Linked DNA regions of Homo sapiens. The protein of the gene in region 2 purifies or fractionates together with the protein of the main gene of each other region. This does not show direct contact. Each region holds a gene or a part of one and is shown on either strand. Other genes may lie near its edges. The genes, in order: KPNA3, CTDSPL2, STK35 and KPNA1.

Region 1 (7,028 bases), on a different chromosome or scaffold from region 2:
TGAGCCTAAGAGTTTGAGACCAGCTTGGACAACACGGCGAAACCCTGTCTCTACAAAAAATAAAAAAATTAGCTGGGCGTGGTGGCGTGCACCTGTCCAGCTACTTGAGAGGATCACTCGAGCCTGGGAAGTTAAGGATGCAGTGAGCCGTGATTGTGCCACTGTACTCCAGCCTGGGTGACAGAGCAAGACCCTGTCTCAAAGAAAAAAAAAAAGCTAAATAAATGTTTAATAAATCTGTTTCCCAAGTCACTAGAATATGTAAAGCATCAAATAAAAAGAAACATAGGGGCTACCACAAGTAAATATGCTGACAGTATCAAAAGAAAGCTGATAGACCAAAAGCAAGGGAAGGACAAGCCAAAAAAATTAAGAAGAGCAAAAACTCCACAAGCGTAAAAATCAAGAAGAAAATTCTGTTAATTTAACAACCTGAAGGCATCACTTATGTAAAAGCAAAACCCAATATCCATATGCATAATGGTGATTCTCAAGAACCAAGAAAACAACTAAATTATATTCTATTTAAGGCAAGTGTCAAAATAAAGTAAAATCTAGTATGTATACAACCTCCCTAACCCAGAAAACCAAGAATGATTAATTCCAAGTAAATATAGTCATGATTTATTTTACCATATTTTAACTGCTGATGTTGGCTATGCTGTAAGAAAATTTTTCTTAACAGCAAAACTGCAAGAAAGGATAGCTACATCCTCCTTATACTTTTAATATTCCTTCACCTCCACTTGAAAATGAGAATACAGTCCTCCCTCTGTATCCTCGGGGGGGTTGGCTCCAGATGCTCCCTCCCCCGAAGATACTAAAATCTGCAGATGCTCAAATCTCTTCTATAAAATGGCACAGTACAGTCAGCCCTACGAATCCACAGGTTACAAAGGGCCAGCTGTACAGCCAAACCGTATGCTAACTAAACAAAAGGTCAACTGAGGAGTGGTGTCAGTCATAGAAAGAAAATCCTACTGACTCTGAAGTTAGAAGTTCTAGATATACACTTTGTAACTCCTTTACTGGATACCAAGAAGTTACTTTTTTTTCCACTTCTTGAAATGTCATCAATTTCATGTCCCATTTCCCCCAAATAACTAAAATTCACTTCACAAACTGTTAAGTAACTTTCACATTGATGGCATTAAACTATTTGTTCTTTATCACCTGAACCCTACGATCATTCTTATTATCATTACTGAGATATATTCTAAGGTACACACTACCACCAACTGAAGTTTAAATAAATTAATAGAAGCTTAACTTGAAGCTAATCAAGACTTTAAATCAAACTTCCAGTTTAGACTGGGCTCAGTGGCTCATGGCTATAATCCCAGCATTTTGGGAGATTGAGGAGGGAGGACTGCTTGAGGACAGGAGTTCAAGACCAGCCTGGGCAACACAGCAAGACCCCATCGCTACAAAAAGTAAATAAGCTGGACATGGTAGTGTGCACCTGTAGTCCTAGCTACTCAAGACGCTGAGGCAGGAGGATCGCTTGAGCCATGATCGTGTCACTGCACTCCAGCCCAGGTAACAGCAAGATTCTGTCTCAAAAATAATGTTTAAAAATTTTTTTTTAAAAAAACTTCCAGATTACAAAAAATCTGAAGGGTGGTAAAAAAACAAATAAGAGGAACCAGTTAAGCACCACCAGAAGGAAACAGACAAACCCAGTAATTAGGACAGTCTATTAGGCTAAATATGAAATTGCCAATACTTGGCTGTTGTTACAAACCTGGAAAAAAGCAATTTCATATAGTGCAATTTAATAAAAGAAAACTGACCCGAACAAATTAGTGGCATTTTTAAATGGTTGGGAGACAACAGACTAAAGTTGGAAACAATCCAAGTATTCATCTATAGATGAATGGGTAAACAAAATGTGGTATATACATACAATAGAATGTTACTTAGCCATACAAATTAGCCTTAATCACTAATTCATTCACTATGTATATACCTTAATCTCCCAGAACTTTACCTGTCATAATAAAAAGCTTGGAGTTGATTTGGGAAGCAGTAGGAAAAGGCACTAAAAGAGTAAACATTTCAGTTCAAAAATACACATGGGAAAAATTATTGTGTCTGCGGTGCCTACGATGTATTTATTCAAGGAATATTTTAGTGCTTGCTTGGTTCTAGCCACTGTACTAAGTGGTAGGCAATGAAGATACATAGTCTGTGCCCTCAAAAAGCTCACAATCTAGTAGGAAAAATAAAATCTAATTAAAATACATTATCATAATTGCAACGAGAAAGATACACTCAGACTTCTTCCAGGAGCAAAGAATGGTACCTACCCAGAGTTGAGTATTTAAAAGTGGTAGGAATTAGCCAGGCAACAGGAGGCAGAGAAGGATATTCCAGTCAGCAAGATGGCCCTGAGAATAGAAATAGCACTGGCGAGGAGGGGCAGGCGGGATTCCAGATTATGTATAAGCATATAAGAAGTTCAGTGTTGCTAGGGCTTAAGGGGGTGGGGGAGGAAGGCTGAATCTGGAGAAATAATCAGGCATCAGGCTCACTGAAAAATCTCATAAACTAAAGGAAGAAAACCACTTTGGAGATAGTTTTTAAACAGGAAGGTGACAGGTAATAAGGCCTAAAGTAGGCTGGAGGCAGCAGAATATAGAGGCAGGGCCAAAATCCAGAGACAGCACAGAGATTCGAGCTACATAACTGGCATCTGACTGAATGTGGAAGAGGAGAAGTCCAAGAAGCCTCTCAAGTTTCAAATTCAGGTCACAGTGAGGGTGATGATGCCATAAACAGAAAAAAGAAAAAACAAAGGCAGAACATGGCTTTAAACACTTTGAGCTTGAGAAGCTAAAAAGATGCTCATGTGAATAATTTCCAGCAGATGATTTTATGAAATTTAAGTCCCCGCACATTGAAATGATGATTAAAGCCAAGGGAGTTGCTGATATGAGCAAGAAAAACAGTCTACAGATAAAAGAATCGTAGACAGAATCCCAAGCCATGCCTACTACATTCAAAGGGTAGGAAGAAGACTTACCAAAGCTGACTGAAAAAGAGTACTCCAAGAGAACCAGGAAGCAGTATATGCCCCATTAGTGAATTCATGAAAAAAAAAAAGTTTGTTTGCTATATGGCATATAGATTCCTGAAACACTTTACACTCTCCAAACTTAGGAAGAAGAGGGAAATGCACAGGATGGATGGTCGTTAAGCACCTTTAGACACTGCATATGGTTAAACAGAGCCAAGAGGCAGAACATGGGTGCATGGCCAATATGCATACTCCTGGGCTTGATCCGTTCAACTGTTTCTGTACTTTATGTTCAACTGTTGTTATTTAAGAGTGCTAAACATTAATGTGATACTAAAAATCACATATGAACCAATATGAACTTTGCCTTAACATTTTTTTATTAACCATTCAAGTATGAGCGAGTTCATGTTACAGAAATACATTATAGGAGAACAGGCTGTTCAAGGAGGGCTAGGCAACAGTATCAATGCCATGGAGTCAACACCAAAAGAAAATTAATGTCTTAGAATAATACTGAACCTTTCATTCCCAAATGTAGACTTTTTTCAGGTATATCATCTAGTCTCTCTTCTCATTAAGTTTCATGTTTCAAGTTACATCCAAGGTATCTATTCTCACTGAGCTTCTCAACAGAGCCCAAATACTTTAATAGCTATACAAACACAGAATTTGTTGTACATCACAGCAATTTATCCCAAATAGGTGAAGGAAAATTCACCTAGGAAAACACTAGAGAGGAGGAAAAGAATAGGGACTGATAGTACCAAGTATACTGTAAGTCAGGAAAGGCTCATGGAGAACTTTTAAAGTTTTTTTTTGTTTTTGGTTTTTAACTAGAATGACATGGTGTGGCAGAATTGTAATCTTGGTGTTCCAGAGATATATGAAGGAGTCTCACTGAAGAGATAGGTTGCCAGAGTGAACCCCAACTCAACAGATAGTCAAAAGAAGGCACACAGAACAGCATATACAAAGGCATGAAGAAGAAACTACTGGTTACTCAAGCATCTCCAGTACTTTATCACAGCTGGCACAAAGGAGATATAAGGAAAAGTGCAAGGTGAGGTAAAAAAGGTAAGGTCTTACAACTATGTGTGGCATGCTAAGGACTTTTATCCTGAAGTCAATGGGAAGGATCATAAACAGGAAAGTAACACAGAAAGATATGAGAAAGATCAATCCACAAGATACACTGGGGAGAGAAGATACTGAACACAGAAGAGCTAGGTACACTATTATACTTGTTCAGGCAACAAAGATAAGGGTCTAAACTAGGGGCAGAGGAAGTAAGGTTGGTAACAGGTACAAACATGAGGGTTCTTCAGATAACTAATACAAAGAAGGGTGAAGGAGGGGAAGAGAAGGGAGTCAAGGATAGAATCTTAAACTTGGACAATCAGATAGTGCCACTTAGCACTGGAGGTTCCAGAGACAGAAGCAAGTCTGGTAGAGCTAACTGAATTTTGCAGGTGAGAAAATATATATTAGCCCTGGTATCAGAAACTAAAGCATAAAGCTTAAGTGTTAAGCCCAAAGATACGGATTATCATTTTTTGGTAAAACCAACCAACTGGCTCCTTGCTGATAAGAAGGAAACTTTGCAAGAGTAAAAAGATAAAAAGGCAAATAAATCTAATAGTAAAGTTCATCAAAAATTTGCAAGGTTTTAAAGTATAGAAATAGCAATTTCTGTGATATAGTCGATATTTCTTCAATATTTTCCCCATTCACTAACTTTCAGGCGTGGTTTGTACATGTCAAGTCTTAGACTCCCTTCGGTGGAGTACAGCACAGTAAGCAAGAGTTCTAGCTTTAGCATCAAGCTTTATTTGTTTGTTTTTGAGACAGAGTTTCACTCTGTCGCCCAGACTTGAGTGCAGTGGCATGACCACAGCTCATTGTAACCTCTGCCTCCCCGGTTCAAGTGATTCTCTCGCCTCAGCCTCCCTTGTAGCTGGGATTACAGGCATGAGCCACCAGGACCGGCTAATTTTTGTATTTTTTTTTTTTTTTTGAGACGGAGTTTCGCTCTGTCGCCCAGGCTGGAGTGCAGTGGTGCGATCTTGACTCACTGCAAGCTCCGCCTCCCGGGTTCACGCCATTCTCCTGCCTCAGCCTCCCGTGTAGCTGGGACTACAGGCACGCGCCACCATGCCCGGCTAATTTTTGTATTTTTAGTAGAGACGGGGTTTCACCATGTTGGCCAGGCTGGTCTCGAACTCCTGACCTCGGGTGATCCACCTGCCTCGGCCTCCCAAAGTGCTGGGATTACAGGCGTTAGCCATTGCGCCCAGCCGCTTAGCATAAAGCTTTGATATATTGTAAGTCCAGGCTTTGCCACTTAACACCCGATGGAAGACTTAAGGCCACTTACTTAAGGGTTGTAGGCCTCAAGTTGCCTCAGCAGTAAATGGGGATAATAATAGTACTTACTTGATATAGGACTGTTGTGAAGATTAAATAGATAATCTATATAAAGTACTTAGCACTGATATACTGTAAACAATAAATGTTAAGGTTTTTAAAATAATTAATTACTGTTACTAATGAAAATGTCACACCCTTGAGGTATACAGCAGCAAGAAAATGAGTTGACCTGGATTGCAGTTACCTGAGCATTTGTTTTGTAATTATTCATTAAACAGAACATTTCTGTTTTGCACACTTTTCTATAAGTTATCTTTGAAAACAGGAAAAGTTTTTAAGAATCAATGCCTTACATGAAAAGGTCTAGCATTAAAATGCACATTCCAGGACCGGGCATGGTGACTCATGCCCCTAATCCCAACACTTTTAGAGGCCAAGGCAGGAGGATAACTTGAGCTAGCAGTTTGAAACCAGCCTGGGCAACATGGCAAAACCCCGTCTCTACAAAAAACACAAAAATTAGCCAGGTGTGGTGGCATGTGCCTGTAGTCCCAGCTACTCAAGAGGCTGAGATGGAAGGACGGCTTGAGCCTGGGAGGAGGCGAAGGTTATAGTGAGCCGAGATTGGGCCACTGCACTCCACCCTTGGCGACAGAGCCAGACCCTCTTTTTTTTTTTTTTTTTTTTTAAAAAAAAAAAGCACATTCCAGAACAAATAAAAGGAAATGTTTCCCTTTCAATATGTACTTCCTAGTTTTTGCTACAAAATGCATCCCCTACCCAAGCTCCAAATTTCTATCAGTGATGATAATTACTCCCTCCCTTCCTCCATTTATAAACCTCAGAATAACCTTTACTCCCTTTCTCTTCAGTGATCTTTATAAAGAGAATTTGAAGGAGGAGGAAGAGGGAGGAAGAACAGCATCATCAAATCCTCATTCCAGGTTGTAGCCATTCCCAGTCTCAATTTTTTGGAAAACTCTTCTTTGCAGATCAGACAACAGCGCTATTTCTCCAAAATGAATTCTAGGTATTACTGCCCTGTCACCCTTTCCATTGCTCTAATCATGTTACATCTCCTCTTTGCTCTGGAATAAATTCCTTCACATCTCCCTATTAAGAAAAAGCTTCCAAGCAACTCTTTGCCACAAGATATTCTTGCATCAACACAGGCCACCTGGAAGTCTCCTCTCTTTAATATAATCACTCTTCTTTTTTACCTGGATATTTATTCACCAGTTAACATGCCCCTTTTAAGTTTGGTACATATTTCCTATAAGATTCACTAACCTCATTTTTTTTTTCCTCTCCAAAGATCTCTTAAAGTCTCTCTCGATTGAATGACAAAGAAATTTTCTTCCTCAACCCTCTCTCTACTCAAATCCCCTGGCATAACTCTATCCTTTTATTTTCTTTAACAAGTATGGATCTTATTCTTGCACCTAACATCTTGTGTATCAGCTGCTTCTATAATTTATAACATGTTTTAGTTTTTGTCTATCCTATATGTGAAAAAATAGGCATCATAGCTTATCAAAGTGCATCTCACTGTTTTGGAACAGCCTGATAACCACAACTACTCAGTTACAGAGCTAAGTTGTACTGTTTCTAATGGACAAGACTAAGCATGGTTATCTAC
Region 2 (7,028 bases):
TATGTTTTAAAGAGCTGGAGTCTCACTATGTTGCCTAGTATGACCTCAAATTCCTAGGCTCAATCAATCCTCCTGCCTCAGACTCTAAAGTAGCTGGCACTACAGGCGCCTATGATGGCACCTGTGACCTGGCTCACAGTTGACTTTATAAGTCAGTACACACAAAGCAAAGACATTTAAAAATATTTATTTCAATATAGTTGAGCTAACAAAAACACAACAGAAAAAGATAAGCTACACTTACCAGTTCTACAAGCTTCTCCAGGAATGGAATCAATTTTAGGAGTTCATTGTCATTTTTATCCATAAACCAACTTTCTATAGGGATTCCATTAGAAAGCTAAAACAATAAATAAGTAATTAAATCCTCTTTTACTTATATTTTACCTAGTTTGGAAAAAGTTAAAAAATAAACAAAGATTTATTAAGTAAACACTGATCTAAAAGTTCCTTTGAAAAGTAATGTCACCAGACTTTTCTTTGACAACTCAATAGTGCAAGAGACAGAGGATAAGGAAATAAATTGAAGCCTATTGGTTTTTCAGTGTCATTTCTTCTCAGAGTATATAAAACTAAACAAGAAAGTTCCATTAAAATACATTTTATAAGGATCATTAATATAAATAAAATATTCCATTATTCCTTCAAGAAATAGTTACAATTAGTACAATGCTAGGTAGGCACTGTGAATGATGGGACACTGCCAATCTAAAGAGAATATAGAAAAGCCTATACTTTTTTTTCCCCTTAAATACAGTGACCATATCTCCCATTCATTATTCTATTCCCATCGAGTAGGATGATAACTTGAAATATAGTAGAAACTTAACAAATTAATGGTATTTCATTGAAGAGGAGCCTAAAAACAAGAATGCAAGCCATATTTATTTTATGGTGAATAATCTCTGGGATAAAATGTTTTAAAATTTAGGCTAAATGTTGTATATGAGATGGAGGATAATTGATATAATTTTAACTAGGAACCAAGATGAAATTCTTAAAAGACATTTTTAAATGTAAACAAATAAAAGTAAGGACCTAAATATAACTTAGTATCATATACAGCTTTTCACTTGTTTTCTTTTTATTATAGACATTTTGAAACACAGGACAAATCTAGTTTATACTCCAATCCACTTTGCATCATCCCTATTCTGGACTGGCTTATTGTGAAGCAAATCTAAGAAATCCTATCACATGGGGCTGGGTGTGGTAGCTCACAACTGTAATCCCAGCACTTTGGGAGGCTGAGACAGGTGGGATCACCTGAGGTCAGAAGTTCGAGACCAGCCTGGCCAACACAGCAAAACCCCGTCTCTACTAATAATACAAAAAAATTAGCACGGCATAGTGGCGCGCACCTGTAGTGCCAGCTACTAAGGAGGTGGAGGCAGGAGAATCACGAACCCGGGAGGTGGAGGCTGCAGTGAGCTGAGATCGTGCCACTGCACTCCAGCCTGGGCGACGAGCAAAACTCCGTCTCAAAAAAAAAAAAAGGAAAACAAAAAAAAGAAAAAAGAAATCATATCACATGGACATATTCATAATCTAAAATATACCTTGAAAGGATGACTCATCAGGCAGGCGCAGTGGCTCACACCTGTAATCCCACCACTTTGGGAGGCTGAGGCAGGCGATCACCTGAGGTCGGGAGTTCGAGACCAGCCTGACCAACATGGAGAAACCCCGTCTCTACTAAAAATACAAAATTAGCCAGGCGTGGTGGCAGACACCTGTAATCCCAGCTACTCGGGAGGTTGAGGCAGGAGAATCGCTTGAACCCAGGAGGCGGAGGTTGCAGTGAGCCAAGATCACGCCATTGCACTCCACTCCAGTTTGGGCAACAAGAGTGAAACTGCTTCTCAAAAAACAAAAACAAAAAAAAACAAAAAAACAAAAGGAAGGAAGGATGACTCATCTACATTTGTAGTTATACGTCAAAGAAATATTAACAAAGGGTACAAATATATTGACAAAATAGTCTAAGAAAATATTTCAGAACATTAAACCAAATAACCAGACCAGAAGAACATAAACTAACTATAGTACTCAAATATGTTTATGATTAAATTACTAATTACTGATTTAATAACTGATAAGAATGCTATTCAATGATGCTTATCTTATAGTTTTCTTACTCAGGTTTTTCTTCATTTATGCTGCATGTCATTTAAGTAAAAATTTTCCAAAAGGAATATACCACTTTGTCATTTCTAATTCTAAAAAAATGACACATTAAAGGGAAATTCCACCAGTGAAAATTCTCTTCTTCTTCTCCCATCATATTCTGTTTGGCAGCATGTGTCTTCATTGTATTTTTTCCAATCTGAGTTTGTTTATCAACTTTCTTCCTACCTGATATGCAAAGGCTTGTGGTGAGTTGTCAATTATTATAGTTTTTGAAAGATCTCTTCCAAGAATATTTAAGTCCTTTATATAGTTTCCTTGTACACAAACACAATGTTCACGGAAAAGCCGGTGCCTAAACATAAAAATAAAAACAAATTAAAAAAAAAAAACTTTCTAAAAAGTAGAACATATACACATATATATACACCATAGGCTTTATAGTTTAAGCCATATGATTTTCTCTCTTGAAGGAAATTCAAACACAAATATGGGTCTAAGCGTTGGGCTGCCATTTTACTATAAAAATTCTAAGCAATTACTGAAAGCTTACAACCAAATATTACTATGCCTTAAAGAACTTGAGTTTATCCCAAAATGTTATTATTAAATTATAAAGGGGGATTAAAAACTCTAAATTGTTTTTGTAATTTATTTACCCAAGAAAGCTCAGCTCAGATGCAGCATCTGGTTGTCAGCGAGGTCCTGCTTTTTAACCAATTTTCCAGATGGTTGACTGAGGAACAAGGAGGTCAAGTGACTTGCCCAAGGTCACACAGTAAGTCAGTGGTTAGCCCCGCATTGGAACCCAGGATCCTCCTGGCTCCCAGTCCTTGGCTCTAACCAGTGGACCACACAGCCTCCCTATCCCTGTACATGCCAGAATAGAAAATATAAGAAGGAATGTTTTTGTGTTGGCATTTGAAAAAATGCTTTTTAGATTTCCTTATTTTTTTTGAGAAAAGGTCCTAAGACCAAAACATTCCATCATTTCAACTTTTCCTAAACACCCCTCTTTTAGTATATGTGTATGATCATTTGAAAAAAGATTAAGTGAAATGAGGAATTCAGATTTAAGTATCAAGTATTATAAATGTAAACTGATATTTCACTCACATAGAAAAATACTACATCATTTTAGAAAGCTATTAAAGGTTTTACAATACTAAAGTGATTATTATAATCTCAATTTATACTCAAAATACTAGTCTCTGAACATTACTAATAATTGTTTCATATAATTTTTTTCTACCTTGAAGTACTCTATTCTGTATATATTAATAATTGGTAAGTTGTCTTCCTTGTGTCTTAATCACACTAACAATTTTACAAAATCTAGGACCTATTTGGACCTGTATTTTAAATTATGCAATTTCAAGAAACTGGTATTTTCTACCCACAAAATCTGTCACAGTGCTACCAAGAATAAATAAAAATCTACATATACACACACAAATAAAAACTCAACCTTAAAATTATCAGTGCCAGTTGGTATGGCAAAAAGGAAGAATTTAACGAACAGACAAAATGTATAAGCAGTTCTTTCCCCCTTATTATAAGGAATAACTTTAATAATCACAGTCAAACGATCATCTGGCCCCGGGAAAGTTTAGTCAGTTCTACTTTGAAAAAACAACAACAAAAAAGACTAAGTAAATTAATTCAAGCCTTGGTTGGGCCTAAATAAGATTCACTGTTTTATTTCTATAAACATTTAGATATGAGGAAACTGGAAAGGCAGATACAGCATGTAAATTCAAGTCACTGTTGATGCCTCTTCACCGATAGTGGCAAACTCATTGAGACAGGAGACAACTGAATCTGTACGTGGATACTACAGTTATTTTAATTAAATTACAGTAAAAGCCTTCCAATTATTCATTCAGGAATCTGAGGGTGTATAGCATGTATTTGCATTTTTAGAAAAAAACTATTTGTACCAGTCATCAAAGAGCAGATCATCCATGTGAGTACAGACTTGTGTTAGAAACTCATGAGATTTAGAGATCACAGGAATTTCTTTTTTTCTTCTTTTTTTTTTTTTGAGACGGAGTCTCCCACTGTCGCCCAGGCTGGAGTGCAATGGCAGACTCTCGGCTCACTGCAACCTCTGCCTCCCGAGTAGCTGGGATTACAGGCGCCTGCCACCATGCCCAGCTAATTTTTTTTGTATTTTTAGTAGAGACGAGGTTTCATTATGTTGGCCAGGCTGGTCTTGAACTCCTGACCTCGTGATCCGCCTGCCTTGGCCTCCCAAAGTGCTGGGATTACAGGCGTGAGCCACGGCACTCAGCCTAGATCATAGGAATTTCTTAGAGTCTACCTTGTCACCAACACAGACAATTCCCTATAGCACTCACAATCTACTCTTTGAAACGCTTTTGTTGGCCAGGCGCGGTGGCTCACGCCTGTAATCCCAGCACTTTGGGAGGCCAACGTGGGCGGATCACGAGGTCAGGAGTTCCAGACCAGCCTGACCAACATGATGAAACCCCGTCTCTATTAAAAATACAAAAATTAGCTGGGCGTGGTGATGCGCGCCTGCAATCCCAGCTTATCAGGAGGCTGAGGCAGGAGAATCGCTTGAATCTGGGAGGCCGAGTTTACAGTGAGCCAAGATCGCACCACTGCACTCCAGGCTGGGTGACAGAGCAAGACTGTTTCAAACAACAAACAAACAAACAAAAAAACAAGCTTTTGTTTCAGATTTCTCAAAATACATCTAGATAGAACAAATGGAAACCCTCAAGTGTGTAGGTTTTATAAATCTAGTTTAAAAGAGGATTGTTAATTTATAACACATTGTCATAACATGACTATCATTTGTTCCTCATTAGTAAATGAAAGCTCCAAGAGGGAAGAGCTTGTGTTGCTCACCACTGTTCCCTGGAATACTGGAGATGCTGAACAGAAATCATTATAATGAATGAAGTCATCAAAACAAAATCACTGGGTATACTTTAGTAAAGTGAGGTAAAATTAGCATAAATTACAATATACTTTTGTGAACAGAAAATACCATTTCCCATTTGTGTGACTGCAGCTTACTTATTTTGACCCTTTAGATTAAAAAACAAAAGATACCACAGCTTTATTTAGAATAAAAAACCTTCCAAAATATGAACATTAGGAAAAGCCTTTCAGTATACTTGCAACCACTGAATAATAAAGGTACTGTTAACAGCAGAAAATACACTTTAGGATTTTCCAGTAAGACAACATGGGAAAAGTATTTAAGAAAATTTATACTCAGCTGGGCTGGGTGCAGTGGCTCACGCCTGTAATGCCAGCAGTTTGGGAGGCCAAAGTGGGTGGATCACTTGAGGTCAGGAGTTCAAGACCAGCCTGGCCAATATGATGAAACCCCATCTCTACTAAAAACACTAAAAATTAGCCAGGTGTGGTGGCACACACCTGTAGTCCCAGCTACTCGAGAGGCTGAGGCAGGAGAATCTTTTAAACTCAGAAGGCAGAGATTGCAAACTGCACTCCAGCCTGGGCAACAGAGTGAGAATCCGCCTCAAAAAAAAAAAAAAAGAAAAAGAAAGAAAGAAATAGAGAAAGAGAGAGGAGAGAAAGAAAGAAAGAAAGAGAGAGAGAAAGAACGAACGAACCAACCAACCAACCCAGCTATTAAAGTCTTTTTTTTTGAGATGGAGTTTTGCTCTTGTTGCCCAGGCTGGAGTGCAACGGCACGATCTCGGCTCACCATAACCTCCGCCTTCCGGGTTCAAGCGATTCTCCTGCCTCAGCCTCCCGAGTGGCTGGGATTACAGGCATGCGCCACCACGCCCACCTAAATTTTGTATTTTTAGTAGAGACACGGGGTTTCTCCATATTGGTGAGGCTGGCCTTGAACTCCTGACCTCAGGTGATTAGCCAGACTCAGCCTCCCAAAGTGCTGGGATTACAGGCGTGAGCCACCGCGCCTGGCCCTATTAAAGCTTTTATGAGCCGTTTGTGTCATCTCTCTCAGCTTTTGATCAAAAATTCAAAGATTAACCCCTCCTCTTAAAGGATACAGCAAGACTGCTGCAGTCTTACTATCTCACTTCAGCTGACAAAATAATGGAACTAATTATCATAATATTTTAAAATCACCACGGCACTCCCACTAACCAGGAAAACACTGCATCTGCTGGCTCAGGGCACACACAAGGAACTGAGTCCAGTCAGGATAACCTGAGTGACTAAACCCACTGTAATTTCCAATCAGATTCATGTAACATTTTCTTTCCATGGAAGATAAATTTGCTTTCAAAAAAAGCAAGGGCTTAATTTGATCCTTTCTGTTAAAAAATAATTTTTATTTCTCTATGCCATTAAAAAGTAAATTAACATGCATTACCTCAGAGACATATGGAGATGAAACATCATGCACAACGTGGAAAAATTCCACACAACCCCCCCAACCCCCGTCTTCCCCAATCCCAAAAGAAATGAGGATATAGATGTCACAGTGAATAAAGGCACTGGATCTTTGTATCCTTTAAAGAACGTCTGTCTGGAGTTCCATCATTAGGAACTCTTTTAAAGAGTTTAGGGGCTTAAAAAATTCATTTATATTCACCATTCAACACATATGCAGCCAACTGAAAATGGCCATTAAAATGAAATAGAATCAGTAATTTCATAGATCAGTGTGACAGACATTTCCACTATTTCTTAATTAAATTTACCTGACCAGTTGCTTTTTAGGGTCTAGTATGTTCAGTAACTTGTCTGCATACACCTTCTTAGAAGCAGTAAAAAGAATGATCTATAAATTCAGGGGAAAAGAAGTAATCATTATACATGGTCTAAATATGGGTACTATATTGAATAAAATAAAAATACATATGTAATTAGCTTAAGCATGTTTACCTCATACATCTGAGACATTCGTTCCAGGAATTCCCTGA
Region 3 (7,028 bases), on a different chromosome or scaffold from region 2:
TACAGCATGTTACTGTACTGAATACTATAGGCAGTTGTAACACAATGGTAAGTTTTTGTGTATCTAAACACAGAAAAGGTAACACATACACCATAATATGCACTATAACATTACAACAGCTACATCACTAGGTAATAGGAATTTTTCAGTTCCATTATAATCTAATGGGACCACCGTCATATAGGCCATTCCTTTTTGACCAAAACGTTGTTCATGCGGAGCATGACTGTACTTCACAAAGGAAAACTCACAATAAATTTTTTTTTTTTTTGAGACGGAGTCTCGCTCTGTTGCCCAGGCTGGAGTGCAGTGGCACGATCTCAGCTCACTGCAAGCTCCGCCTCCCGGGTTCACACCATTCTCCTGCCTCAGCCTCCCGAGTAGCTGGGACTACAAGTGCCCGCCACCACGCCTGGCTGATTTTTTTGTTATTTTTAGTAAAGATGGGGTTTCACTGTGTTAGCCAGGATGGTCTTGATCTCCTGACCTCGTGATCCGCCCACCTTGGAATAAATTTTTTAAATAAGCAAAGACTTCTACATAAATATTCACTAATACATTCTTTATAGTATCTAAAATGGAAAAAATCTGTTTTCTAAAGTAGGAGAATGGTTAAATTATGGTACATATAATGGGAATGTCATACAGTCCCTGAAAAGCCATACTTCTAAAGTATGACATGGAGGAATGCTCAGATTAGTAATGAGTAAAAAGAAAAAGACCTTGACCAACTAGGGCAAGATCTAAACTATGTGGAACCGGATGTGTGAGTAGGTGGGATACAATCAGAGATAGTGTTTATTCTCTGAAAACCTGTCTACCTCTTATGCACATTTTCTACAGTGAGCATTTATAATGATGAGAAAGAGCGTTTCTAAAAAAAGGGAGACTCGGCTTAAACGCAACCTCCTCTGAGAAGACTTCTCTAGACTTTCCAACGTGTACTCAGATAATTGCACGTTTCTCCCATCAAGATATGGGGGGGATCTTTGAAAAGAAGCACTTCATTTTCTTCAACTTTGTATTCCCCTGCAAGTTCACAGGGCCCATGCCAGGGTCCAGAATGAAGAACCCGGTCCAAGAAGTGGGCATACAGAAAAAAAAGAGAGGCTGGGCATGGTGGCTCACAACTGTAATCCCAGCACTTTGGGAGGCTGAGACCAGCAGATCGCTTGAGGTCAGAAGTTTGAGACCAGCCTAGCCAACATGGTGAAACTCCGTCTCTACTAAAAATACAAAAATTAGCCGGGCATGATGGCAGGTGCCTGTAATCCCAGCTACCCAGGTGGCTGAGGCACGAGAATCACTTGAACTCGGGAGGTGGAGGTTGCAGTGAGCTGAGATCCTGCCACTGCACCCGCTGCACCCCAGCCTGACCAACAGAGTGAGACCCTGTCTCAAAACAAAAAACAAAAAACAACAACAGAGAGCACTCACCTAGTTTAAAATCACCCAAAATGCTTAGCCCTGAATTTTAAGCAGCACATGTGACCTGGTCCATTCTGGTTTCAAGTTCAAAGGCATCAGGCCGGTCCTGTGGGTTAGCAGCTAACATATCTTTCAAGAGCTGCTTGATCCCCTCAGACATGGAAGTCCTGCGTTTTTGGGGGATGTGCAACTCCATCTTTGGGTTTTCTAGCAGCGCCTCACCAACAGGGACGATCTCAGTCCCCTGTTTAATGTAGGTCCCCAGGAGCTCCTTCTTGGTCTCAGAGTCAATAAAAGTGATTCTTTCTATCATTGCCCAGATGATAATGCCCAGGGCAAAGATGTCCGCCTTGGCTGTGTAGTGTCCCTCCCAGACTTCAGGAGCCATGTAGAAGTCCGAACCGCAGGCTGAGGACAGCCAGTACTTATTCACATTCACATTTTTGTTGTCTTGATTGCCCTCTTTGCCTCGGGGTGCCAGCCCAGCACAGACCTTGCTTAGTCCAAAGTCGGCCACTTTGAGGATGGGGGTGCCAGACCGCTCTGTGATGAGGATGTTGTCTGGCTTCAGGTCCCTGTGCACAATATGGTTTTTGTGCAGGAAGGCAATGGCGCTCGTCAGCTGTAGCATGAAACTTTTGTTGGTGGCTGGGTCTGGCCTCCGGGACAGGACATACTGATTCAGGTCTCCACCTTCACAGAACTCCATGACAAACCAGAGATAGCAGGGCTCCTCAGCATAACCCAGGATCCTTTCTCCTAAATCAAAGAAGACAGGAAGGAGCTTGAGTGAGATGGACACAGTCACACTTCTTTTTAACTAAAGGATGCAGTGTATTCAAGAGTGACATTGGTGACAAACAACTGCTCCAAGGGGACCTGCACAACTGGCACTGAGTGCCTTTCTAAGGTATGACACAGGCACCAGGGACTGGTGTCAGGTACCTGGGTTTGGAATGAGGCCCAGGTGGAAACTCGGGTTTACTGCCGTCTGGTTGACTGCGAAGCCTTTTTGTTTCATTATACTGTCTCCAAACAGGGAGTGCCATACCACCCACACCTCCCAAAGCTGCTGGGCAGATGGGACAAGGGAAAGCATGCAAGAAGGCTGTCACGGGTCTGTTGCTTCTAATATCATTGTTACTCCATGCTGAGCAAATGACCTTCCCTCTCTTTTTTCCTGACTTGTAGAAGGATTCTTGTTAATGCACCTAGAATGGCACTAGAATTTCCTTTATTTCAGAGGCACACTCCTACAATTTCCTTGGTTTATTTCAGAGGCACAGTCCGATCCATCAATATTTTCTGCAAGCCCACCACATGCCTAGCACAAGTTAGGTACATAACATGCCTCCACCTCTATGAGGCTTAGTTTCAAGGAGATGACAGGTATCCACAGCAGCAACCATCAAAAGCTGTACATCGCCATCAGGCTCAACTACTACAAACAGTGAAGCGGAGGCAGGAGTCGCCAGATCTGAATGTACATCTCCATCAGGGTCAACTCATATAAACAGTGAAGGGGGGGGCAGGAGTGGCCAGATCTGAAGGTGTCAGAGGGGGCAGGACTGAACTTACCCTGTAAAAGGCAGGCAGTAGATCAGTGGGGGAGCAGGAAGGTAATTCTAGGCTGAAAGATGGAATGGATGATGGAACACAGGGACAAAAAGACCAGAAAGGTGTAAATTGGAAGTCTGGTGGGAACAGTGGAGTCTAAAGTCGATGTACAAGACAGATTTAAATTGTGTGGGCTTGAAACTCTAGGAAAGCTGGTGACCAACCTCTCCAAGCAAATCTCAATGTTCTTTATAAAGCAACTGACAGTCCAGTGAATCTTTATGTGGATGTTATGTGATGACTACAACTGCTCCCAAAGCTAAGTGTAAGAAGGCAGATGTTTTATCTCACTGATGAGGAGAGGCTGGGCCTGCAAATGTGCTGGCTTGTTCTGGGTGGTCACAAGGTCATTTGTAACTGAGCCAGGACCTGAAGAGAAGTCCTCTCTCTGGCCCCAGTATGGAGTATGCATCCTACCAAAAATGACTGCACTTCCTCAGACAGCTTCTGGCAGAGGGTTCCTTTTACTAGTCATTTACTCTATTACAAAGAAAACGAGTGATCTAGGTGAGGCTCTGCTAACCCCAACAGCCTGAAATTACCAAGGCTCACAGTCTACTAAAGCCAATGGTCTGAGAGTTCTGGGTTCAGCCAAGATGATGTGACACACAAAACAAAAGCTTTAGGTTTTTGATCACAATCGGATAGCCCTCACTTCCCTTGTAATTATATAATTTATTTGCTTATATTACTCACAATCAAAGTAATACAGGTAGAACCAGTTTAGGGCAGATGTTTTTTGTTCTTTTCAAATCAGTTATTTCCCCTCTCATAATCCTCTATCTAGGTCATGGGCAGAGGCCCTCTATGTAAAAATACTGCACAATGAAGCATCAATCTGAAGCCCAAGTCAATCCAGATGCTAAAGACCCACAAAAAGGAGAGCAAGAAATGTGTACTACAGGTAGAACCAGAAAGGAAAAGATCAAAAAGCCATCCAATTCCTTTTGCAAAGGCCACATCAGAAAACACTGAAACTTCTGGTGGGGGAATAAAGGAAGAGGAATGATGGTTATTTTATATACAAAGTTAGTAACTATGGCAACCTAAGGAAAAAGAAAACAAGTCTGCAAAACAGACTATAATCTAAGTCCAGGTTATGAGAATCCAGGGAAAGAAAAAATGGTAAAAAAAGAACCCAAAGTTTGTGAGTGGTTGGGGGAGACTGGACCTTCGGACTGAGGAGCTGCTCTGAGGAAGGAGCTAGACTCAGGAGATGCTACAGGAGGGGCTGTTTGTTGAGAGGAAAATTCTGGACAGGAAGAAGTATTCTCAGAATCACACCCAGTAACAGTGGGTATGACAGAATGGAAAACTGGGAGTGCAGCTATTTGTCCCAGATACAAAAGTGTTATTATTTTTACGAGTCAAGGTCTCACTCTGTCACCCAGGCTGGAGTGCAGAGGTGTGACCATAGCTCACAGTAGCCTCCAACTCCTGTGCTCAAGTGGTCCTCCCGCCTTGGCTTCCCAACGTACTTCCAAAAGAAGTACTTTTGAGGCCGGGTGCAGTGGCCTCAATAGTCCCAGCTTCTCAATAGCACCTGGCCTCAAAAGTACTTCTTTGCGCAGGAAAGGCCCCTGGACTTCTTTCATGAGAAGCTGCAGCGTATGCTTTCACACACGAACTCCCGGGAGAAAACAAACATGTCAGAATTCTAGTCCTTTACTCCAAGCAGACTGTCTAACGGGGTCTCAGCTACCTCACGACCAGATGGAAGGAGGCGACGTGGATGATGCCAGGCACTCGGAGGCACTTGGTGAAGTAACAGGAAAAACACAGACCAGGAAACAAAGAGTTTGGGTTCAGACCCCAACTCTGACCACTGCCTCACTGGGTGGATTCTTTGTTTCAAGGAAAACACAGGGAGACTGAGGTGTGATGAAAAGATGGCTGGAACCCTGGGCAAGTCCCTGAAGCTCTCTGAGCCTCAGTCTTTTTGGTACCTCAGTCTTCACATCTATCAAATGAGAGAATGAAACTATACCACATGAGTACTGTGACTTAAGTCAGATAGGAACTACATTTGGCAGAATGTAAGATCTTTTTGGGGAAATGAACCACTGACCATCACTAACATCATCATTCCCACTCAACCCCAACCAAATCCTTGGAAGTCACCGATTTCAATAATCCCAGTGCTGTAGGCCGTAAGAGTAAGTTTTTACATGTTAGGCAAAAGATGAAATTTAGATCTTAGAATGAAAGTGTATTATTCCATCTAAGACATCACACTTCTTAGGCTGTAACAGCTGAAACCCATGTTCTAGGCAGACCAGGCTATTCCTATTTGAAGTGATCCCTCTCCCTAGGCCTGCTGCCCCCACAATCTCTGCAGGTACAATTGAAATGTGCACCTTAAGGCTAGCTGCAACACCAGTCTATCTTATACTCACTTGATTTCCCAGTAACTTCCCTCTTCTGACCAGCCAAGGCCCTAGTTTCATATTTTTATTTTAGTTTTTATTAAATTATACCAGATATTCTGGTTAGCAATCTATGGCTTAACTCTTCTACTTAACCCTGAGAAATGCTGGCACATTCTGCAGATGTTTTGAGGTCGGGGGACTAGATTTCTTACTCAGTCTTCCGGCCTCCCCAGGGAGACCTGCAGTCATTTCCAAGGTGCCTGTGCATTGAGGAAGGGAAAGTAATCAAACTTTAGGGGATTACTGAACACAAGTTCCAAAAAGACACTAATTCCCAAAGAACCAAACTGTCACTGTGGTCCACCAGTCAGAACAGGACTGATGGAGGGCAGGTGATCCATGGAGTTTCAGCTCAGGCCCATCTCACAGTGGGCTCCCGACCCACCCACAACTGCGGGTATTTCCCCAGTTTCAGGATATATAATTGGAATAGATATATGCAGCAACCACTAAAATCCCCACATGAAATTCAGTTTTTTGAGCTGAGAGGAACAAATAAAATTTACTTAAGTTTTATAATTCCCTTGTCTGGTATAATCTGACAGTTGTATAAGATTAATAAGAGTTACAAATTTAGCTTCCTTCCCAGAGAGGGAGAAAACAGGCAGGTTATTTGGAGATAGTAAGGATTTGAGGTAAATTAGCCTGTGAAAGCCTACTGGGTTCCAGGTACTATTTTAAAAGTTTATTATGTGAGCTATCTCATCTTACCAGGCACCGTTTTACAGGTGGGGCAACTAAGGCTGAGAAAGGCTTCAGAGTCTGCCCGAGGGCCCTTACCATGAGTAACTGGGGGGGATAGGAGAGAACCCCCACAGCAAGTCCTCCCCCCAGACCATGCTGTCTCCCAGCTCACAGAGGGCTAAAAAGTGTTCTTCCAAGAGAGGCAGGCCTGCCTTTGGGGACAGTTTTACTACCTTTCCCTCAAGTCTGACAGTCAGGTGACCATAATATAAATTATGTATTTCAAAACATATCCTATGCCACAGTCCACAGGGAGAGAAGATGCTTAAAGTAAACCCAAGAACAAAACCAAGCAGGTGTCTTGCATCTCATTAGTCATGGAAATTCATCAGTAGTGCTTAAGTTCCCAATAAAAACATGGCTTGCTTCGCTGAAAAACGTGAGGCCAGCAGGCTCAGCATAAAGACAAGCCAGTAGGAGCTTTGGAAAGACAGGCACTTCCTGTAAAGAAATACAAAATGCTCTAGATTTTTACAAGCCTATCCTTAAGCCTTCTCCAGAAGTTAGATTTCCAGGTTTTAGTCAACGCCACTTCAACAATTTCTGAGCACACATTGCTCTTGAGACAGAGGTGCGGTGAGCTGAGGGGCATCCCTGCCCTTACATAGGCTTCTGGTCATTAGAAGCAGAATGACTACAGCTGTGAGAACTAGGAAGCGGGCCCGGATCTGCCAGAAGAGTTGGGAGAGAAGCTGGGATGAGAGGAAGGCAGGCTGAGAATAACTGCGAGAGGCCCTGCAGCTGCGTCTCCCAGGATGAGGGGAGTGGGCACAGGAGCAGGTGGGTGTGCGCCAGGGACACGAGTAGTCT
Region 4 (7,028 bases), on a different chromosome or scaffold from region 2:
AAACACAAGCCTCAAATGTCCCTCTAAAGAGTCTAATTAATGTGTCTGAAGCAGACAGACACCTCTGGGTTTTTCTTCCTTTTAAGATCCCCAAGTGGGCCAGGCACAGTGGCTCACACCAGTAATCCCATCACTTTGGGAGGCCAAGGGGCGGGCAGATCACTTGAGGTCAGGAGTTCGAGACCAGCCTGGCCAACATGGTGAAACCCCGCCTCTACTAAAAATACAAAAATTAGCCAGCATAGTGGCATGCACCTGTGAGTCCAGGTACTTGGGAGGATGAGGCATAAGTATGGCTTGAACCCGGGAGGCAGAAGTTGCAGTGAGCCAGGATTGTACCACTGCATGCCTCAAAAAAAAAAAAAAAAAAAAATCCAAGCAAATTCTGATATGCATCTGCAGTTGAAAATCACTATAGTAGAGCAAAAGTTTTATTTTAAAACAATGTAAAATACAGTTGAAAATGAAGGCTGAAGTTGGACTGAAGATAGCTTTGATAGGAAAGAAAGGAAATAAATCTCTATGTCTGTAATAAGAGGAATAACAAAGTAATTGTATGAGAAAATTAGTTTATCCTAAGCAAATATTTTTAGGTGTTATCACCTAAGCTACTAATTAAAAATTGTAAGTTACTTTTCAAAGTACCCTCTCAGGAATCAGAAGCCTTCAAAATTAAAGCCATTATACCTAAATTTCCTCTTGTTTTCTAGAGAAATAAAGCCAAAGAAGCAATAAACTTAAAAACAAGATGCAATACTGGTGGTGAAATAGAAACACACTCTTTCAAAGACAGATCCCCTCACTTTCTCCTTCATGTCTAGTTACTCAATTATCAAATTTTGCTTATTCTATCCAAAGTCTTTGATTTTATCTGATCCGATCTATTCCCACTGCCACCAGCCTGGCTCAAGTCTGTGTCAACTGACACCTAGATAACTACAACAGCTCTAAACCAGCATTCTTAACCTCAGACTCTTTGCTCCTCAATTCATCCTACACAGCCCTCAGATTAATCTCAACACCCTTTTCACTGTATCACTTCAATGGATAAGGAACTACAACGTTTTTAACCACTTCTTAGAACAAGTCTAAACTTCTTGGTCCTGCAAGATCCTTTTGTCTGGATTCATTCAATACCATTCTCCACCACTCTAAACCCAAAACAATGAGTGTAGATCTTTTTATATTTTTATTATATTCAAGATGTTATATATTCAGTGCACTGGGTCAGCCCACCTAATCAGTAAATCTCAAACACATTCTAAATGTTCTGAATATTTAAAATCCATAATACTCTTGTGGAACAACTTGAAATCCTAATATACTTAATTCCACCATATAAATCAGGCATAATTTTATTAGAAAGTATATGATATGCATTTACTATTAAAAACCAAAACTACAAGAAAGTATGACTACAAAAAAGTTATGAATTTAAATAAGTGGAGTATAAGTATAAAGTGTTCAGTTCATTTGAAAATATAAATTATTGATGTTAACAGCTTCTAGTCAAACGATAGTAGGTCCGTTTAAAATATTTTAATAGAAATTAGAAAAGAAAATTAAAATTTGAAATATCCTACCCATTCTTTTCCTATACGATAATTAAGGAGTAGCTTTATTTTTATTAAGAGCATTTCAGTGTTCAATGAAAGCAAAGTTTGAAAAACCCTTCAATAAAGCTTTTCCTGTGAGAAGTCAATGTGGCAGACATATGATTCATAGGTGTTCATCTCTGGCCTCATCTTATAGCTCTAACCAATAATCCAATGGCAATACATATTTTCTTTCACAGCCCAGTTTCAAATGTTTTCCTTTGAGAGGTTTATCATAACCTTTGCCCCAAATTCTGACCCCCAACTCCCAGTATCTATAGGTTCCCAAGCTGGGAAGTTCTCCAAAGACATTCTCAATATCAAAACACTTAAAGGAAAATATCTGTCAAGGATCTGGAGAACTCAAACCCTGAATTGAATACTTCCACTTTTAGAATGTACATAAAGGAAACAAAACTAGTAGTATGTGTAAGACTGTTCACTGCAGTGTGATTATTCTAGTGAAAAATTGTAAAAAACCTAAAAGTTCCAATATGAGGGCTTGGTTAAAGGAAATGTTCACAATGTATTGAGAAAACAGAACACTAACATGAAAAATCTGAATGCTGGGAACAAAAACCCAACCTACACTATTCTCTATACTTTCGAAAAATATTTCGTAACTTAAGAAATCAGAATATAGCTGGGCGCAGTAGTTCACACCTGTAATCCCAGCACTTTGGGAGGCCAAGGCGGGCGGATCACCAGAGGTCAGGAGTTCGAGACCAGCCTGGCCAACATGGGGAAACCCCATTTCTATTAAAAATACAAAAATTAGCCGGGCGTGGTGGCGGGCGCTTGCAATCCCAGCTACTCGGGAGGTTGAGGCAGGAGAATCACTTGAACCCAGATGGCAGAGGTTGCAGTGAGCTGAGATTGTGCCATTGCACTCCAGCCTGGGCGACAGAGCAAGACTCCATCTCAAAAAAAAAAAAAAAGAAAAGAGAAGATATCAGCATATAAAATTTGAATATGGAAATATTATTTTATCTTCCAAATTTTCTGTGATAAGCAATATACTGATTATACAAGAAAAAAACTTTCAAAAAGTAGAGCTGAAAGCATATGTTTACTATGATAAAGCTTATCAACCTACCTAAAACACTGAATTTCTATACTTTTCACTACTATTTTTTCAACTGAGTATGCTGTTATTTCTTCAGAAGTTCTGATCTTTATGGTCTTTATGAAGGAGAAAAATTATCTCTTATCTAAAAGTTGAATGATTTTTTGGGGGGTTAAAAAAAAAAAAAGACAAATCTTTCCAGAAGATGACATAAAGGGTTCGTTCCCTCAGTAGTAAAAAAATTTTTAATCGCAAAAACTTGCCTTCATTCAATTCATATCCATTAATGAATTTAATAACCACTGTAATATATCTGTTTTAAGAACACTTATGAGGGTTTTCAAATTTCAAATCAGGAATTAGCACATATAGACTGCACTTTTCTTCCCATATCATATTAACTCAAAGCCAGAAATTCAATTTTAATCTTCAATAGGCACACAGTGGTCATTCAAATGCTGTGAAAAAATGAACAGAGGAGAAAACAAAGAGTTTATGTAAAGAAATAAAATGGTAGACATGGTAGAATACTAAAATTATAAAGAAATTTTTTTTTCAAATAAATGAACCAGAACCACGGCATAAAGAGAATAGGTAAGCAAAAGAATCAGAGATGGTGTCAAAACCTAAAAGAAGCCATAAAATAGACAAATTATATGTCACTAGCAAAGTGGAAAACTCTGAAGCCTAACCTGCAAACGAAGAAGGCAATAAGAAACAAGCTGATTCACACTACCTACCCACAAACAGGATGCTTCAGACAGATCATCCAGGTACTATCCCTCCTTAAGGTAGTGAGGAGTTGGGCTCAAAATCAGAAGGTTTGTTGAAAGTCTACAAAACAGCCATCACATGCCCAGATTTCCTCCTCCACTCTTCACAACCAGACAACCATCCTTCAGTAATCCCTTCAAATGGGTGCTCCAATGCAGGTGAGGGTGGGGGTGAGGTGCCTTATTGATAACAGAATTACATGAGCACAACAGTAAAAACCCAAGCTCCTTTTCTAAAATGAGTTCTCAAAACATGGCAGCCAGACACACATTCTCCTGGCAAGAGACTGGAGACTCTCAGGGAAACTGACTAGCCCAAGAGAAACAAACCTATGAGTATATGCCCTCCACCCACCACAAAAAAAATGGCCACCAGCTACTCTCTTCACCCTTCAACAAGCCACACTTAATAGAGCTTCCAATTCAGTTTTTGGCACTTCATTCTTAAATATGAATGGACAGCCACAAGACTACCAGACATCTGGGGAAAGCCTCAATAAAGAAAAGACAACAATGGTAACAAAATTTTTAAAACTATCATTAATATCCCCAGAAAGAATACAGCATCTATGAAACAACACAAATATACTATAAAATAAGAATGAGAGGCTGGACGCGGTAGCTCACGCCTGTAATCCCAGCACTTTGGGAAGCCGAGGAGGGTGGATCACTTGAGGTCAGGAGTTCAAGACCAGCCTGGCCAACATGGTGAAACCCCGTATCTACTAAAAATACAAAAATTAGCCAGGCGTAGTGGCGGGCCCCTGTAAACCCAGCTACTCGTGAGGCTGAGTCAGAACAATGGCTTAAGCCCAGGAGGCAGAGGTTGCGGTGAGCCAAGATCATGCCACTGCACTCACTTGGGCAACTGAACAAGACTCTCTATCAAACAAAAAAAAAAAAAAGAAAGATAAAACCAAGTAAAGGCAAACATGTGAGCAAAAAAGAACTCTCAAGCACTCAAGTAGGCACATACACTAATTCTCCCACTCTATGCCCAAGGAATCACAATCTTGGGTATATATCCTAGAGAACTTCTATACAGGTCTATAATAATGTACAAGAGTATATATAACACAGGGTATTTGAAATAGCAGAAAGGCAACTCAGGGATCAATTCCTAGGGAATGAAAAGTAAAATGTGGTAGATCTGCATTACAGAATTCTACATTAGACACAACTATACATACTTACAACAAAACAGAAAGATCCCCAAATCAATGTTGAATAAAAAAGAAAAAGACCTTTGCAAGGTCTATAACACAATACCTAAACATACACAGCTCCACTACATATTTTACAATGTTTCATATATAATCAAGGAATGTACCAACCACAATGTTATACAAAGAGGTAACAGAAGTAGGGCTCAGAAATTTAAGATAAAAATTTAAAGGACCTTGTACGATCTGATGTGTGACAAGAACTGAGAAGCATAATTCATTCTAAAATTCTTTTTGCCTAACATCCAAATAATAACAAAAACTTTCGAGAACTAAAGGACATGAACTCCCAGCTTATAAAGGTCCATGGAATGCCCTTAAACAAAAAAATACCCATACCTAGACACATCATCATGGAATTTTGAGGGTTAAAAATATCCTAAAAGCTTCTAGAGATTGGGGTAAAGGAAGATCACATACAAACAAAGAATCAGATTGGCTTTGGATTTCAAGAGTAACCCTGGAAGAAAGAAAACAATAGAACTATGACTTGCAAACTTGAAGTAGAAGTTACTTTCAACTCAGAATTTTATACCCAGACAAATTACTGATCAAATGCGAAGGAAGAATAAAGATTTTTTTCAGTCATGTAAGATGTCAGGAAGTTTTTGTTTTCCATGTATCCTTTCTCAGAAAGCTACTAAAAAATGTACTCCAAGGAAATAAGTAAACCAAGAAAGAAAATACAGGAAACAGTAAACAGGGGAACCAGTACAAAAGAGGGCAAAGAAGTTTAAGGATGATGAAAAGAGAAGTCCCTGGATAACAACTATGAAATAGGCCTAGAAAGTAACCAGTCCTAATTGCATTAAGAGGTTCCAGGTTAGCTGTCTCAGGAAATGAAGCAAACAACAACAAAAAATACTAACTTGTAGAAAAACAAAAATTTATTAAGAGAAGAAATGATATCACAGTACTCTACATGGGTCAGCTGTGAACATTTATAGAGTTACAATATTGTAAACACTAAATATTGGTTTAGTAGACACACCTGTGATAACTATATTTGGAGGATGGTAGAGACAGTGTGTGCATATGGCAGGTGAGGTGAATATATATGTGAAACACTAAGGAACATCTTGCTTAGACGAAAGCCAATAATATCTATAATTGCTATATCATGATATAGCAATAAAAGCAAGTCACTGTATTTATAAATATGAAAGCAAACACAAGAGGAAACAGCTAGAAGAAAGAAAATGGTAGCTTTTCAAGTGCAGAGGCTGGGACAGGGAACAGCTGCTTTTCAGGTATTCTAATTCCAAAATTTTATTTTTTTAATGTTGATAAAACAAGGAACTTGAACAATCTCACGACGGTTATATTAGATCTTCAGTATTATTTCATGGTGTTAAACTACATCTAGTTTGTTCTGCCAAAGAGACTGAACGGCTAAAACCAATCTTTAACGATCAATGTGAACACAGTACAAACAGCCCTATTTGAATCCCAACTCCACTACTTTGTGAAGTAAGGCGAGTTACCCAATCACCTTGCACACGTAATCACCTCCTCAAAATGGTTTTGCAAGAACAAGTAAGTGAAAGCACCTGATGCAGAACCTGACCCATCAATAGATGTCAGAGTACTTTCAGCGGGTCTTTCTGTTCCCTAGCTGACCCCAAGCTGCCTATTCTGACCCCAAGCTGCCTATTCTGACCCCAACCTGCCTTGTTGCTCACAGAGTATATAGGCACTCATGGACTCAGCACATATCCCTCCTCACGCTGGAAAAACAATCATGATGAGTAAGCAGACTTATCTTTGTATATGAAGGGCAGCATTATTCTTGTTAATATGAAGGAGATTATCTCCATTATCCACATTCTGGATTACTGCCTGCTTTCAAGAACTGTCCCAATTAGTCTACAACACTTGGACAGAACCATTTTTTCATGTTGTTTTGTAGGTTTGTAACATCTTTAAAAAAAAGAAAGAAAGAAACATACATTCCCACAGTCTTCATCCCTACTCTTCCAATGTACAACCTCAAAATTTTCTAATGCAGGCCCTATCTGGCCCTCAGTTGGCCTCAGGCCATCTCCTGCTTACTGCAGCAAAAGACAGAAATCAGCCCAAATCAGCTAATTTAACTGTTTACCATTTCCAGTGTTTTCTTCCCTATTATGGCTAAATTCATAACACCATGCAAAGTACAAAGATACCTTAAAACAAAACAAGGAGTTATCTTTATCACTAGGTCAGTCATCTTTACTTGCAAGACCAATCAAAGGTCTTAACTGATTTTATACACAGTACTCATACATCTAAAAACAATCTGGTAGACTTAAAAGCACAGACATCATAAATCATTAAAACTCTATTTTATCATTAATTCAACAAACACTGTGCTAAAACACTGAAGATGCAA

The links.
Region 1: the proteins of CTDSPL2 (region 2) and KPNA3 purify together in Homo sapiens (affinity purification with mass spectrometry; 2 studies listed by BioGRID and IntAct, with this or other methods). This does not show direct contact.
Region 3: the proteins of CTDSPL2 (region 2) and STK35 purify together in Homo sapiens (affinity purification with mass spectrometry; 4 studies listed by BioGRID and IntAct, with this or other methods). This does not show direct contact.
Region 4: the proteins of CTDSPL2 (region 2) and KPNA1 purify together in Homo sapiens (affinity purification with mass spectrometry; 3 studies listed by BioGRID and IntAct, with this or other methods). This does not show direct contact.

The regions. Positions count from the first base shown.
Region 1 is NC_000013.11:49,782,662-49,789,689, forward strand, and holds part of KPNA3 (importin subunit alpha-4), read right to left. Parts: intron 1-7,028. UniProt on the Homo sapiens protein: Functions in nuclear protein import as an adapter protein for nuclear receptor KPNB1. Binds specifically and directly to substrates containing either a simple or bipartite NLS motif.
Region 2 is NC_000015.10:44,514,623-44,521,650, reverse strand, and holds part of CTDSPL2 (CTD small phosphatase-like protein 2), read right to left. Parts: coding exon 6,991-7,028; intron 6,887-6,990; coding exon 6,807-6,886; intron 2,483-6,806; coding exon 2,356-2,482; intron 341-2,355; coding exon 245-340; intron 1-244. UniProt on the Homo sapiens protein: Probable phosphatase.
Region 3 is NC_000020.11:2,111,825-2,118,852, reverse strand, and holds part of STK35 (serine/threonine-protein kinase 35), read right to left. Parts: intron 2,188-7,028; coding exon 1,475-2,187; 3' UTR 1,438-1,474; intron 1,167-1,437; exon of another isoform or gene 1-1,166.
Region 4 is NC_000003.12:122,504,923-122,511,950, forward strand, and holds part of KPNA1 (importin subunit alpha-5), read right to left. Parts: intron 1-7,028. UniProt on the Homo sapiens protein: Functions in nuclear protein import as an adapter protein for nuclear receptor KPNB1. Binds specifically and directly to substrates containing either a simple or bipartite NLS motif.